Linked DNA regions of Homo sapiens: all the other regions are reported to be linked to region 2. The links are microRNA targets in miRTarBase. Many come from high-throughput screens and were not tested one by one. Region 2 holds a microRNA gene; each other region holds the end of a gene's coding sequence.

What was found. The annotated mature microRNA hsa-miR-6883-5p reads AGGGAGGGUGUGGUAUGGAUGU and lies in region 2 at 1,610-1,631, shown strand. An mRNA with a match to its seed (bases 2 to 7 or 8) in the 3' UTR can be bound and repressed. Matches are read on the target gene's strand: a 7mer-m8 pairs with bases 2 to 8, a 7mer-A1 pairs with bases 2 to 7 and ends in A, and an 8mer does both.
Region 1: miRTarBase lists TRMT9B as a target of hsa-miR-6883-5p. Seed matches in the 3' UTR shown: 7mer-A1 at 2,766-2,772.
Region 3: the mRNA of QPCTL is a reported target of hsa-miR-6883-5p. Seed matches in the 3' UTR shown: 7mer-m8 at 2,257-2,263, 7mer-A1 at 2,090-2,096 and 7mer-A1 at 1,957-1,963.

What each region holds. Positions count from the first base shown.
Region 1 is chr8:13,021,398-13,024,472 of GRCh38, forward strand. It overlaps TRMT9B (tRNA methyltransferase 9B (putative)), which reads left to right. Exons shown (of 5, transcript NM_020844.3): 5 at 1-3,075. The coding sequence ends at 647. The region is part of intron 3 of LOC124901889 (a long non-coding RNA gene); the gene reads right to left. Among named protein-coding and RNA genes, the nearest start is that of TRMT9B, 77 kb to the left of the region's middle.
Region 2 is chr17:8,143,609-8,146,675 of GRCh38, reverse strand. MIR6883 (microRNA 6883) reads left to right here and starts at 1,605; the gene lies at 1,605-1,682. It overlaps PER1 (period circadian regulator 1), which reads left to right. Exons shown (of 23, transcript NM_002616.3): 15 at 1-82; 16 at 174-304; 17 at 539-718; 18 at 1,683-1,925; 19 at 2,800-3,067.
Region 3 is chr19:45,702,471-45,705,545 of GRCh38, reverse strand. It overlaps QPCTL (glutaminyl-peptide cyclotransferase like), which reads right to left. Exons shown (of 7, transcript NM_017659.4): 7 at 1,559-2,642. The coding sequence ends at 2,497. Among named protein-coding and RNA genes, the nearest start is that of QPCTL, 11 kb to the right of the region's middle.

The DNA of each region.
Region 1 (3,075 bases), not on the chromosome of region 2:
ACAGCACATTAGGAAAATCGTTTCGTTCCTGGTTTTTCTCCAGATCTTTGGATGAATCGACTCTGAGGAAGCAAATTGAAAGAGTAAGACCCTTGAAAAACACAGAAGTTTGGGCCAGTAGCACTGTAACAGTCCAGCCTTCCAGACACTCTAGTTTAGACTTTGATCACCAAGAGCCATTTTCAACAAAAGGGCAAAGTTTAGATGAGGAAGTGTTTGTGGAATCTTCTTCTGGAAAACACTTGGAGTGGCTGAGAGCACCAGGCACTCTGAAACATTTAAATGGAGACCATCAAGGGGAAATGAGGAGAAATGGAGGGGGAAATTTTCTGGATAGCACTAATACTGGTGTGAATTGTGTGGATGCAGGCAACATAGAAGATGATAATCCTTCTGCTAGTAAAATATTGAGAAGGATTTCTGCAGTTGATTCCACAGATTTCAACCCAGATGATACAATGTCTGTCGAAGATCCACAGACTGATGTTTTGGACTCCACAGCCTTTATGCGCTACTACCATGTGTTTCGAGAAGGGGAGCTCTGCAGTCTGCTCAAGGAGAATGTGTCAGAGCTCCGTATCCTGAGTTCTGGGAATGATCATGGTAACTGGTGTATCATTGCAGAGAAAAAGAGAGGTTGTGATTGATTGGATCCTTTTAGACAACTCCTCCAAAAGATGAACCACATTCTTTCCTCTTGGTTTGATATGGTTACCTGAATTTGCATTCAGTGTTATTTGTTAATCCATTTACGCTTTGGTCTGCAGAGACTATTAATTATTTGGTTGTTTTGTTTTCATTTTTGAATAAGCACAGATTCTGGCATTGAAAGCACTTGACAAAGGGTATTTGTGCTTAAATGTTAATATACAAGATCTGAAGAAGCAACAGAAAGTACCCTTCAGTACACCTCAGACTTTTTTTTAACCCCAGAGAGATAAAATACATGTATAGTGTTTTTCAGTATTACACATTGATTTAAAAAGATTATGCTGTTAAATAATCTTTTAAAACGGTATTTTTATAAAGTGAGGGGATAATTTCTGGTTCTCAGGTTATAACTGAGAGCAGTGTGCAAGATAATAGGTAAATTTGATCCATTGCACAGATATACTTTGAACCATGTGATGAGTTATCTTGTTGCCAAGGCCTTGCTTCTACTTAAAGTTTTCAGAAAACTGAGTGACAGTGGAGAGAAACAAGAAGTTTTACAAGGACTTTACTAAATTATAAGCAAACTTGCTTCAAAATAAGTTGACATGTGATAATAAGGTTTTCAATGTAGCCCAGGAGGTTTTTAAAGGCACTGTTAGGCTGAGCATGGTGGCTCATGCCTGTAATCCCAGCACTTTGGGAGGCCAAGGCAGAAGGATCACTTGAACCCAGGAGTTCAAGAATAGCCTGGGCAACATAGCAAGACCCCATCTCTATAAAAATTAGCAAGATGTGGTGGTGCATGCCTGTCATCCAAGCTACTCAAGAGACTGAGGCAGGAGGATCACGTGAGCCCAGGAATTCAAGGCTGCAGTGAACTATGATTGCATCACTGCACTGCAGCCTGGGCAACATAGCAAGACTCTGTCTCAAAATAATAATAATAATAATAATAAAGGCGTTGTTAGCTTGTAAGGAGTGGAGTATGTAGGTAGTAGGAGTTATATGCAAGTACCCAAGTGGTATTCTTCCAATCTTATTAGAAGCATGAATATTCAAGATTGATATTACTATTGCTTATTAGCAAGATTGTTATCAATCATGCTTATTAGAAGGATGAATATCCAAGACCAAGATTGACTAATGATGAGTCTGCATCAAGAACTAGGCATTTCTTCTGAGTTGACGGACTCTTTAGGAAAGGAGAATCTAAGTGAAGCACTGATTTTAGCTCTGAGAACAAACAAATTAAGGTACAGCATAGTTAGCCTTGGTAGAGGTATGACTTGGATTTGCTGTATCCTTTAAAATAGTATCTGGGCATTTATTTTATTGAAGGTGACTACATTTTATTAGTTATATTAGGAATTTAGGTAGAATCAACTTCTACTGATTACAGGTTGAATTTCTGTCACTTTGTAGAGAAACGAATAGACTGGACACTGTGTGGTCACTGTTTAGATTTGCCCATGGGTCTCTTTAAATCTATGTCATGGATCCTGAGACACAAATATAATTAAGACAGGTCTAGAGACAGGAGAAGCAGAAATAAGTTGACCCAGGAGTACAGTCTCAAGTAGTTCATTAATGAGAAAATTGACATCTGACAAGAGTCTTTTTACTTTATGCTGGATGAAAATCCAAATCTTGTTTTATTTTTTCCACTAAAAGTGACTAAAATAATAACGAATTTCATTTGTTCTTGGGTTCTTTTTTCCTTTAATGATTGTGCTATAACTTAAAATAATGATGTTACTTTTGAACAAACTTAAAGAAATATTTTTAAAGCGTATCTGAAAACGATTGATGTTTATAACTCTCTTTTGGCTTCAAAATAAGATTGTGTTATCACCATTTTGGTAGATGAGGTTGTCTGGTGAAAATGATGCATATGAGTTGTACTGTTCAGTGTACATCCTGCAGTAGTGGATGATTGAAAACATATATAAGTGGAGTATAAATTAAAAATTAATTTGGTTTCTTCTATTTCTTTTTTTTTTTTTTTTTTTTGAGACAGAGTCTCGCTCTGTCGCCCAGGCTGGAGTGCACTGGCGCGATCTCGGCTCACTGTAAGCTCCGCCTCCCGGGTTCACGCCATCCTCCTGCCTCAGCCTCCCAAGTAGCTGGGACTACTGGCACCCACCACGACGCCCGGCTGTTTTTTTGTATTTTTAGGAGAGACGGGGTTTCACCGTGTTAGCCAGGATGGTCTCGATCTCCTGACGTCGTGATCCACCCGCCTCGGCCCCCCACAGTGCTGGGATTACAGGCGTGAGCCACCGCGCCCGGCCTGTTCCTTTTATTTCTTAATTCAGGACACTAAACCATGACTGCAAGGGATTTCCTTGGTAAAAAGAAAAGATTCTCAGAGTCAAAATGGTCTTACAACTCGGGCTTGACGGCCTTTGAATTATGAATGGA
Region 2 (3,067 bases):
CCTTGGTCCCTGAGGAGGCCGAGAGGAAAGAAGCCTCCAGCTGCTCCTACCAGCAGATCAACTGCCTGGACAGCATCCTCAGGTAAGGCCTGCCAGGCATCTTCTCCACCTCGGGCTCTAACCCTGCCCACCCCAAGCCCTGCTCTGATGCCCTGTGCTGTGTCCATCCCCAGGTACCTGGAGAGCTGCAACCTCCCCAGCACCACTAAGCGTAAATGTGCCTCCTCCTCCTCCTATACCACCTCCTCAGCCTCTGACGACGACAGGCAGAGGACAGGTCCAGTCTCTGTGGGGACCAAGAAAGGTAAAGATCCAATGCACCCTGCTCCCACTGCCCCGTCCTGGCCTGGTGGCCCTGTGTCTTTTCCCTTCTGCTTCTGGGCCCTCTTGCTCTGCCCTGCTCTCCTCCCCAGCCTCCTGGTCTCCAGACTGTTCCCTCTGTTCCCTACCACCATCCCCTTCCCCTTTTCCCTGGGATCCTCTCTCCTGACTTCCCAGTGGGGGTGGGGATGGTAACTGGCACCATCTCTCTGCACAGATCCGCCGTCAGCAGCGCTGTCTGGGGAGGGGGCCACCCCACGGAAGGAGCCAGTGGTGGGAGGCACCCTGAGCCCGCTCGCCCTGGCCAATAAGGCGGAGAGTGTGGTGTCCGTCACCAGTCAGTGTAGCTTCAGCTCCACCATCGTCCATGTGGGAGACAAGAAGCCCCCGGAGTCGGGTATGGGTGTGGAATTGGGGGGCAGTGCTTGGGCTCCACCGGTCTCCCAGCTAGAGCTCCCTCCTGCCTTTCCCCTCCCCTCTAGGGCCTGATGGAGAGAAGGAGGCCTCCCTTGACCTGGGGCTTGGGGCTACTGCTTCTTGCTCTCCCCTCCCTGCCAGGCTTCTCGGCTTTGCCCTTCCCCTGTTCTGCTTCTCGTATTGTTACTGTCAGTTGAAACACAGAGTCTGGGATAGAGGGTTTGCCCTGAGGTGCTGACCACACAGGGTCTGAAGGCAAGGAAAATTGAACATCCCTGAAGGGTCTTTGGATATTGACCTTGAAAATCATGAGGGGCTGGGCATGGTGGCTCAGGCCTGTAATCCCAGCATTTTGGGAGGCTGAGGTAGGAGGATCACCTGAGATCAGGAGCTCGAGATCAGCCTGGGCAACATGGTGAAACCCTGTATCTACTAAAAATGCAAAAATTAGCCGGGCGTGGTGGCGCGCGCCTGTAGTCCCAGCTACTCGGGAGGCTGGGACAGGAGAATCGCTTGAACCCAGGGGGTGGTGGTTGCAGTGAGCTGAGATCGCACCACTGCACTCCAGCTTGGGAGAAAGAGTGAGACTCCATGTCAAAAAAAAAAAAAAAAAGAAACAAGAAAATGTGTGAGGGAAGGCCAAGGGGTGGGCTTCTCTTCCAATGAGAGTTGTGACGGGGTCATCCCAGTAGAGTTCCTGGCAGGGAGTGGCCACTGGAGGGGCCTGAGTATCGTCTCTTCTTCTGGGCCAGCTTTGCATGGAGAGGAGGACCCAGGGCCAGCCGTTGGCAGAGAGGTGACCAAGAAACGTACATGGAGACCAGGCTTGGCTGTGGGGCAGAGCTGCCAGGGGTTGGCTAGGCTATCAGACAGGGAGGGTGTGGTATGGATGTGTTGACCCCTGAAGTGGTTCTGATGACCTTTCCCTATCTCACTCTCCTCAGACATCATCATGATGGAGGACCTGCCTGGCCTAGCCCCAGGCCCAGCCCCCAGCCCAGCCCCCAGCCCCACAGTAGCCCCTGACCCAGCCCCAGACGCCTACCGTCCAGTGGGGCTGACCAAGGCCGTGCTGTCCCTGCACACACAGAAGGAAGAGCAAGCCTTCCTCAGCCGCTTCCGAGACCTGGGCAGGCTGCGTGGACTCGACAGCTCTTCCACAGCTCCCTCAGCCCTTGGCGAGCGAGGTAGCCACCTGGGGCCTCCTGGAGCCTGCCCTCTGCCCAGTCTAGGACTGGATTGTTGGGGGGTGGGTCTTAAGGGAGGTGTTTCTGCTCCAGGGACCCAGGCTGGTGTTGCTTCCACCACTAGGCCCTGCCTAGGGACAGGCCCCTCGCTAGCTTCTCCCCACTAGGATGGGGTTCCGGGCTGCAGCCAGAGGAGGGCAGCCTGGGGGGATGGCACTGGGATGGGCAGGCAGAGGTGCTGTCTCCAGGTAAGCGACTTCAGGCCTAGCCTGGGGGCAGGGGCAGGAAGTATGCCCACTTAGGAGTCAGTTGTCACTGATGAAGAGACATGCATAGATTCTGGGCCAACTCTGGGTGGGGTCTGGGCTTCAAGGGCAGGTGGAAGGCAGCCCCTCCAGGTGCCTGAGGGAGATCCCCTGCAGGCAGACGCAGGACTCAGGACTGGGCTTTCCAGCCCCACTCTTCACTCCATTGCAAGCTAGGCAGAATACGGCCTCGATGGGCAGGAGGAATGCCTAGGCTGGCAGTGCCCACAGGAGTTTGGCGGACCAGAGCCATCTGTCCATGTGTCCATGGACTCACCCTGCTTCCTCCATCTGCCAGCATGCCTCCATCTTCCGCACACCCCCAGCTCGACCCCTCGTGTAACCTCTCCCTGGCCTTGTTCCTTTCTCAATAAATCCCCTTGTCCCTGGCTCCTGTGATTCTTCCCTGAAGGTGCCCCACCTCCTGAGTCCCCCGTTCTGTGTGGGTTGAGAAGCTCTCTCTGGGACCTTGGCCTGTCCTCTCCCTGGTCAGCGTGTCAGGGCAGTGTGGGTAGCAGGGGTACTAACCCCAGGTTGAGGTCCTTGCTAACCCTAGTCTCTCCCCACAGGCTGCCACCACGGCCCCGCACCCCCAAGCCGCCGACACCACTGCCGATCCAAAGCCAAGCGCTCACGCCACCACCAGAACCCTCGGGCTGAAGCGCCCTGCTATGTCTCACACCCCTCACCCGTGCCACCCTCCACCCCCTGGCCCACCCCACCAGCCACTACCCCCTTCCCAGCGGTTGTCCAGCCCTACCCTCTCCCAGTGTTCTCTCCTCGAGGAGGCCCCCAGCCTCTTCCCCCTGCTCCCACATCTGTGCCCCCAGCTGCTTT
Region 3 (3,075 bases), not on the chromosome of region 2:
CGTGGTGGCACGCACCTGTAGTCCTAGCTATTTGGGAGACTGAGGCGGGAGAATCGCTCGTACCCGGGAGGCGGAGGTTGCAGTGAGCCAGCATTGCAGCACTGCGCTCCAGCCTGGGTGACAGAGCGAGACTCCGCCTCAAAAAGAAAAACCTCCTGGGCTCAAGTGATCCTCCCACTTCAACCTCTCAAAGTGCTGAGATTGCAGCCATGAGCCACTGCACCCAGTCTGCATTTTTTAATGAGCACCCCAGCTGAGTCTGAAAATTAGGTAGGGTTGGGAAATACTTGCTCATTGGAGTTTGCAGTTACACTGCCATCTCACAGTGCTGTACCAACAGCTGAAGGGGAAAGACAGTGTGCCCTAACTACTCTGCGGTAAATCTAGATCTGTCTTACCCATTCCTCTCATAGATGCTCTCAGACTTTCAAAACCCCATGTTTTCCAAAGTACCTTCTGAGGTATCCTAGTTCTTTTTGTTGTTGTTGTATTTTGTTTGTTTGTTGAGACAGCCTCGCTCTATTGCCCAGGCTGGAGTGCAGTGGCGTGATTTTGGCTCACTGTAGCCTCTGCCACCAGGTTCCAACAATTCTCCTGTTTCAGCCTCCCAAGTAGCTGGGATTACAGGCTCATGCCACCACACCTGGCTAATTTTTGTATTTTTAGTAGAGATGGGGTTTCATCATGTTGTCCAGGCTGCTCTCGAACTCCTGAGCTCAGCTGAACTGCTGGCCTCGGCCTCCCAAAGTGCTGGGATTTCAGGTGTGACCCACCATGCCCGGCCGAAGTATCCTAGTTCTATGAAGTGCTTCCCAATAAAAAGTGTTCCATAGTGAAATACTTTGGGAGCCTCTGGGTTCTGTCTTAAAAATTCACATGATGCAGTGAGGAAACTCATTTTATGTTGTCTCACCCTCTTCTTGGATTTCAGATCCCCCTTGTCATGCAATGTCTATTTACACGAGTTCTACAGAATGGCCTTTTTTGTTGTTGTTGGTGGTGGTGGTGTTTGTTTTGAGACAGGGTGTCACTGTGTTGCCCAGGCTGGTCTTGAACTCTTGGGTTCATGGGATTCTCTCACCTCAGCCTCCTGAATAGCTGAGACTACAGGGTGTGCACCACCACACCTGGCTTATGCAGGTGGTGTTTTGCAGAAACATTGGTTACGCTTTTTTTTTTCTTTCTTTTTTCTGGAGAATGGGGTCATGCTCTGTTGCCCAGGCTGGTCTCAAACTCCTGAGCTCAAGCTATCCCTCTGCCTCTGACTCCCAAAGAGCTGGGATTACAGGTGTGAACCACCATGCCCAGCCAGAAACAATGGCTTATTACCCACTGGGTCTGGAAGAATCTGGACTTCCAAAATATGAGCTTCTGTCTCCTCTGTGCCTGGTTATGAGGACATCCTCTGTGTGCCCCGTGTGGGAGTTAGGTTAGGACTGGTGCAGTAGCAAGGCTGCTGTTCTGGAGAATGAACTGACACAACACAAACCACAGAGAATTCATCTAGCTGGGTGGCATCACTGGGCCAGACCAGTAATAGTCTTTTAGTCTTTTACTCTTTTTAAAAAATATTTATTTATTTATTTATTTATTGAGATGGAGTCTCGCTCTGTTGCCCAGGCTGGAGTGCAGTGGTGTGATCTTGGCTCACTGCAACCTCCGCCTCCTGCGTACAAGTGATTCTCCTGCCTCAGCCTCCCAAGCAGCTGAGATTACAGGCGCCCACCACCATGCCCAGCTAATTATTGTATTTTTAGTAGAGACAGGGTTTCGCCATGTTGACCAGGCTGGTCTCAAACTCCTGACCTCGGGTGATCCTTCCCCCTCAGCCTCTCAAAGTGTTGGGATTACAGGTGTGAGCCACCACACCCAGCAGTCTTTTACTTTTTCAGTTCGCTGACTTAAAGAACAGCATTTTGCCAGGTGCGGTGGCTCACACCTGTAATCCCAGCACTTTGGGAGGCCGAGGCTGGCGGATTACAAGGTCAGGAGATCGAGACCATCCTGGCTAACACGGTGAAACCCCGTCTCTACTAAAAATACAAAAAATTAGCCAGCGTGGTGGCGGGCACCTGTAGTCCCAGCTACTTGGGAGGCTGAGGCAGGAGAATGGCGTGAACCCAGGAGGCGGAGTTTGCAGTGAGCCGAGATCGCACCACTGCACTCCAGCCTGGGCAACACAGTGAGACTCCGTCTCAAAAAAAAAAAGAACAGTATTTGGTCCCTGCAAACCTTTGGACCAAGTGTTTACCTCTGGGGAGGGAGCAAGTTCTTATTCCTCTGGCTGTCATCCCACAGTGGTCTCTTCCCTGTCCTTGAAGGGTGGCAGCTTGAGACAATCAAAAGAAAGAAGGTCTTCCAATTGTAGCACAATTAGGAGACAAAGGTATGAAAAGGACAAACCAGCACACCCTAGGCAGATCCTGCCTGAGCTTCACTGGCCCCCGCTGGGACCTTCTCTCTCACAGTCCTCTCCACAGTCATTGGCCAAGCACGCTAGAGCCCCAGGTATTCAGCCAGGAACACAGCGAGAATGCGGCACAAGTTGTGTACCGTGGGTGGGTGGAGATTGACCTCGGTGTCCGCAGGGGTGTGCCAGACAGCAGGGAAGGGCGTGGAGATGAGATGGAGCACGGGTACCCCTGAAGTGACAGAGGAGACTTTGTCAGGTCCACTGCAGCCCACCACAACCCAGGAGCCCAAGCCCAACCTCTAGGTAACCTTGCCTTGCCACCACACACTGGTGAAAGATACTATGTTCTGGCACTTTTTTTTTTTTTTTGAGACAGAGTCTCACTCTGTCGCCCAGGCTGGAGTGCAGTGGCGTGATCTCGGCTCACTGCAGCCTCTGCCTCCCAGGTTCCAGCGATTCTACCGTCTTAGCCTCCCGGGTAGCTGGGATTATAGGCAGGCACCACGACACCTGTCTAATTTTTGTATTTTTAGTAGAGATGGGGTTTCATCATGTTGGCCAGGCTGGTCTCAAACTACTGACCTCAGGTGATCTGCCCGCCTCAGGCTCCCAACGTGCTAGGATTACAGGTGTGAGCCACCATGCCCAGCCTGGCACTTTTT